2 separate regions of the Homo sapiens genome follow, and region 1 is linked to region 2. The links come from fine-mapping of genetic effects on gene expression. A gene starts in region 2. The other region holds a variant in brackets. All regions are shown on one strand. Distances are between the middles of the regions.

Region 1 (2,929 bases), 22 kb before region 2:
AAAATGACTCCAGGGCATATCAGAGGTCTTCCCAGCAGCCCCTCCCATCACATGCCCAGAGGCCTAGGAGGAATAAATGGTATTATGGACTGAGCCCAGGGTCCCTCTGCTGTGTGCAGTCTAGGAACTTGGTGCCCTGCATCCCAGCTGCTCCAGCCATGACTAAAAGAGGCTAAGGTACAGCTCAGGTCATGGCTTCGGAGAGGGTGCAAACCCCAAGCCTTGGTAGCTTCCATGTGGTGTTGAGCCTTTGAGTGCACAGAAGTCAAGAGTTGGGTTTTGGGAACCTCTGTCTAGATTTCAGAGGATGTATGGAAATGCCTGGATGTCCAGGCAGAAGTTTGCTGCAGGCATGGGGTGCTCATGGATAACCTCTGCTAGGACAGTGCAGAAGGGAAATGTGAGGTCAGAAGCTCCACACAGAGTCCCCACTGGGGTACTGTCCAGTGGAGCAGTGAGAAGTGGACCACCGTCCTCCAGCTCTCAGAATGGTAGATCCACTGACAGCATGCACTGTCCACTTGGAAAAGCTGCAGACACTCAATATCAGCCCATGAAAGCAGCCATGAGGGAGACTGTACCTTGCAAAGCCACAGGAGCAGAGCTGCCCAAAGACATGGGAGCCTACCTCTTGCATCAGCATGACCTGGATGTGAGATATAGAGCCAAAGGAGATGATTTTGGAGCTTTAAGATTTGGTGCCCTTTGGACTTGCATGGGGCCTGTAGCCCCTTTGTTTTGGCCAATTTCTCCCATTTGGAATGACCGTATTTATCCAATGCCTGTACTCTCATTGTATCTAGGAAGTAACTAACTTTCTTTTGAATTTACTGGCTCATAGGTGGAAGGGACTTGCCTTGTCTCAGATGGACTGTGGACTTTTGAGTTAATGATGAAATGAGTTAAGTCTTTTGGGGACTGTTGGGAAGGCATGATTGGTTTTGAAATGTGAGACATGAGATTTGGGAGAGGTCAGGGTGGAATGATATGGTTTGGCTGTGTCCACACCCAAATCTCATCTTGAATTATAGCTCCCACAATTTCCACGTGTTGTTGGAGGGACCTCGTGGGAGGTAATTGAATCATATGGTAGGGGTGTTTCTCGTGCTGTTCCTGTGATAGTGAATAAGTGTCATGAGATCTGATGGTTTTATAAAGGGGAGTTTCCCTGCACAAGTTCTTTCTTCTCTTGTCTGCTGCCATATGAGGTGTGCCTTTCACCTTCCACCATGATTGTGAGGCCTCCCCAGCCGCGTGAAACTGTGAATCCATTAAACCTCTCTTTCCTTATAAATTGCCCAGTCTTGGGTATGTCTTATTAGCAATGTGAAAATGGACTAATACACATGCTAACCCTAAA[G/A]ATGGTGTTTTGCTTTTTATCACTATGAGATACTGCCTACAAATGTGCATATCTACCAACTTTCTCTAAAGAAAAATTTCAGAAATTTTTGCAATAGATTTTAGCTTAGAAATGTATACTTAATTTATCCATGGGTCATCAAATTCCCTAGTACTAGCTAGTCAAACTTCTGTTCTCTTTCACATGTCATACTGTAACAGATTTCTTACTGATAAAACAACTCTGTTATTTTGCCCTCCTAGATTAAATTCTTCCAGTGGTTTCCCCAAAAATCTAACTTATTCTGGCTAGAAAAGGCTGTAAATAATGTCTCCTCCTTGTTATTTTAAAAACAAAACAAAAGAAAACAAATAAAACCTTTAACATCATTTTTCACATTGGCCACAATTCTTCTGCCCCTCTGAATATATTCTGTTTTTCAAATAGAAATCTTTTCCTTAAATTATTGTCTTTGAACTTCATGTAATTGCTACCTGTAATGTTCTTCCTACTTATTTTGCATGCTGGTTCCTATTCATAAGATTTGAACTGCCTGCTCTCTATAACAGCTTAGTTTTAAATCTCTGCACAACATCGCCAAATTTGAGATCTTTTCTCCCTTTCTTTCTTTCTCCCTGTCTCACTTATATATCTATTTATCTATTTCCTCCTACAATTAAAATTTATAGCTGTGAAAACAGGAACTTGTACATCTTGCTCACTTTGATATTGTTAGCACCCAGGATAATGTCTAATAAATACAAGGCACTCAAAAGATAACTTTTGAATAATTGAACTTTTTAATAATTGAATAAGTTCATTGAATAAATAAACTTGAATAATTGAATACACATATAAATAAGAAAATAATTTTAAGAAAGATAGCACTGGCATTTATAATTCTAATCTTAGATAAAATCTTGAACATGTAGTTCTTTCAGTAGTAACTATTTTCTAAAGTCTATATAAGTTAAGTTTTACTATTTATTAGTAATTGTCTCTGGATTTCACAATATTATTGCACCATCAACTATGAGATGTAAGACATAGCTCAGAAGTATAGTGAGATTATTATGGTATCCCTGAATTGGATTTTCTTGAAATATCTAGCTAGTCTTTACCTAATGTATAATAGCTTTATACATAATGATGATTTAAATAACATAGTCACAATAATAATTCACTCACAAAGTTTATAATTCCTGTTTTTTTTTTAAATAGAGAAATGATCTATTCTGGGCTTCACTATTCATTAAAAAGGAAGTATTCAATAAAAGTTTCTTGCAAAAACACATGAAAATTTTTTTGAAAAATTGCAATAAAAATGGTGTAGATCTGGACTGATTAAGATCAAAAGCTAACGGGAGGACACCCAAAGACATTATGAAAAGACAGCCTATCTTGTTCATTCTGCAGCTAAATTCTCATAATTGCCTGGGGGGATACATAAACAACTGAAACTGTTTTTCTTGACATGCCACAATTGTCTACTCAAGCAAAGACTTCTCCTATTGGCTTCTCTGTTAATTTCCAGCTACTCACTTTTCCCAAATTTGTACAAACAAAATACACTATATCTAGGTTGACTGG
Region 2 (2,929 bases):
GCTTAAAGTACTTGTGATATTCAGGTAAATAATAAAGAAATACAAGAGGATAAATGTTAGATTCTAACATCTTTTAAAAAAATCAACAAATACACAAACAAGCAACAACTACACAGACTTCAATGTGCTATTGGAGGGCCATGAGAATTACAGAAAGAAGAAATGCACAGTAACTTAGTAAACAAAATGAGAAACAGAAAATTTTAGGTAGAGAGAATAGAATGAGAAAAATTTCAGACAAGGGAACATGGAATTTATATATGAAATTGAAAAACTCCAGTTTGGCTGGTTCTTAGGAATGCAAGATAGGAAAAGGGATGAAAAAGTTTTTAAAAATAGTTTGGATCCACACTGAGGAGGGTCTTAAAGGCCAGTAGTACATTCTTAAAAATAACTTTTCATTAGTTAAAATCTTAAAATCTTATTTTAATCACAAGGAAACAGTCAGTGTTCTCCTTTATTGAGATTCTCTTGGCAACTATCTGTAGGACAACTGTAGAAGTGATAAACAGACAAATAGCGACCATTGAGAAGCTTAGTGGGATATGCCATGACCCTTCAGTATTACCTTCCTCCAGTCAAATTTCTGGCAGAGTCAACACTTACACCAAATCCCCAGAGCCACCAGCCCGACAACCATCCCCACGCACAGGATCAGCAGAATCAAAGCCATCACACGCCACCAGGAGGAGGATGCAGAGCCAACTGTAGGCATATAATAAAGACATCAAGGAGCAGGCAGTATGGGTTAGCTATGGGGAAGGCTCACCCCTGCCCCTGCCCCTGCCTTCTCAGGGTCCTCCAAGTAATAGAAAGAGCTTTGCTGGCAGATCTCACCTGTGTTCTCCTCATGATCATCAACAATAGGCATGGCCCACCCCTATACCATACATCCATTCTCATCTCCAATGCACTTTACCTCTCCAAGCTGAAATATTACTTGCTGTTAAGGCCTGATGTGTTTGTATTTTTTGTTTTGTTTTGTTTTGTTTTGTTTTGTTTTATGCTCACCCATGCCATAAATAATTGCTTTAATAAACAGCAAATGAAGAATCACACTCATTTGCTCACATATAGAAAATGAAATTTCCACTCTTTTCCGTTATCCCCTTGACTTCTATGCCCTCGAGTATTAAACGCTCAGAATCTTAATGCAATTTTCCCTGCACATATATTGGATGTTTGTAATCTAAATAGGTCTGTATGAGCTTATGAAAACACTACTCAAATGCTTTAGAGCATTAACATCATTCAAGAAAAAGAAATTAAACTATATATATTATCAATAGTAGAAAAAGAAAGAATTGAATCAACTCATTTTTTAAATTAATTTCCAAATTATTGGCTCTGAGCATTCTTACCGGAGATGAGAGCTGGTTTCCGAGTTTTAATATTTAAGGTGATGTATCCATCTTCATCCTGCATGGCTTCCCGAGTACTGCAACTGAGCTCAGAGTTCAATGACTTTGCAAAATGTAGTTTCCAACTTTACAATTTCAGTATCTGTCAGTTTATGATCTTCCTGTCTTTAGTAGGGTAGAACCATGTGAGATGGGACACATTTGTTTTCCTTTGCTTATTGTTTTCCAGGAAGCTTCTTCATAGCTGCTCAGAGATACATGGACCTTGAACACAAAAACACAAAAATAATAATAACTTGTGGTAAAGGAGTAGATAAGGTATTTGCTTCCTGCTTTTTTTTTATCTTCAACACTAAATAAAGGGACATTCCATCATGTGCATCCTTTCTAAGAACAAAAGTTCATGCTTTATCTTAGCCCTAGCTTAGTCTAAATTACATTGCTCAAATGAGAGATTTCTGCTGAAAATTCATGGATATAGCTCACCAGCAGATATATAGTTTATCTCATTGTGAGAAGCAAGTGTAATATAATTGGATCTGATAGGGGCTAAATTAGCTGTTTCATAGTCTTGTGTTGGAAGAGATCATTCCTGATTATGACCTAGAATTTACACAACTTCTTGCATATTTCATACTTTTTTTTATTTGAAGGATCCACATGAGGCAGGCCTGATATTGCTTAGATTTAGGTATTGAAGGAAAACTATCAAATCAAGTAAAATAATACAGAGTTGGTGACTTGCTGCATTGTTCTTTAGTAGTGTTTGTGCTTTAAAGTGAGTTTCCTGGAATGGAAGAATTTTGATTTGATGAAATCACTTCATTTCAAGTACAGCTGTGCTTAGATGAATATTTGAGACTGAATGGTTCCTAGCACCTTTTCATCACAATATAATATGTATTGCACACACTTAACTTTATGAAATGGGCTTTTACATTATTTTAGCTTGCACTGAAAGTAGTTGTAAGAACAGCCATACAAAGCTAGCTGATGCATTTATTATAGGAATATTGGGGAGGATGTTGTCTATTTTGCCATAGGGTAACTCTTACATAGTTTTATGGCAGATTTTTATTTTTGTTAAATCACCATGACTAGCAAAGCTTTAAGTAGTAGGCATTTACCTTATAAATAATTTGAATTCTATTTTTCTTTACTTAGCAGAGTGTTAGACTTTTCAATATAGTGATTATGTGGGCTGCAGTAGCAGATATTTTGTTTATTAACATGCCCTTTGGCATAGCCCGTAGATTTTTTCTCCCCTGCTATCTCCTTCACTCTGAATTTCTTGTCAATTCACTTAAAATTATCTTTCATTCTAAATTTCTTTCTCTATACTCTTCAAATTATTTTGAGAATGAGGTGAAGAATAAGCATAACACGTATAAAAGACATTCCCTGATTTTGGAAAGCCAAACTTAGTATGATTCAAATATTTTTACCAAAACTAATTCTTAATTAAAAAAAAACACATTTGAAATAAATGCCAAATTTTAAGAAAAGACTAAAAATTTTTAAAAAACATTAAATCCCAACACCATTTTTGTTGCTGTGTTTCTTATCTC

Evidence for each region. PIP is the estimated chance that this variant, and not a neighbour inherited with it, causes the effect. A credible set is the group of variants that fine-mapping cannot tell apart.
Region 1: its variant is the best candidate, but not a certain one, in a credible set for the expression of CLEC1B in whole blood (INTERVAL, PIP 0.68).

The regions. Positions count from the first base shown.
Region 1 is chr12:9,975,735-9,978,663 of GRCh38, forward strand. All of the region lies in intron 1 of CLEC12A (C-type lectin domain family 12 member A), which reads left to right. Among named protein-coding and RNA genes, the nearest start is that of CLEC12A, 5.8 kb to the left of the region's middle. The variant G/A (reference allele first, on the strand shown) is at 1,361.
Region 2 is chr12:9,997,676-10,000,604 of GRCh38, forward strand. It overlaps CLEC1B (C-type lectin domain family 1 member B), which reads right to left and starts at 1,446. Exons shown (of 6, transcript NM_016509.4): 1 at 1,362-1,446; 2 at 607-705. The coding sequence starts at 1,425. It also overlaps a transcript of CLEC12A not described here.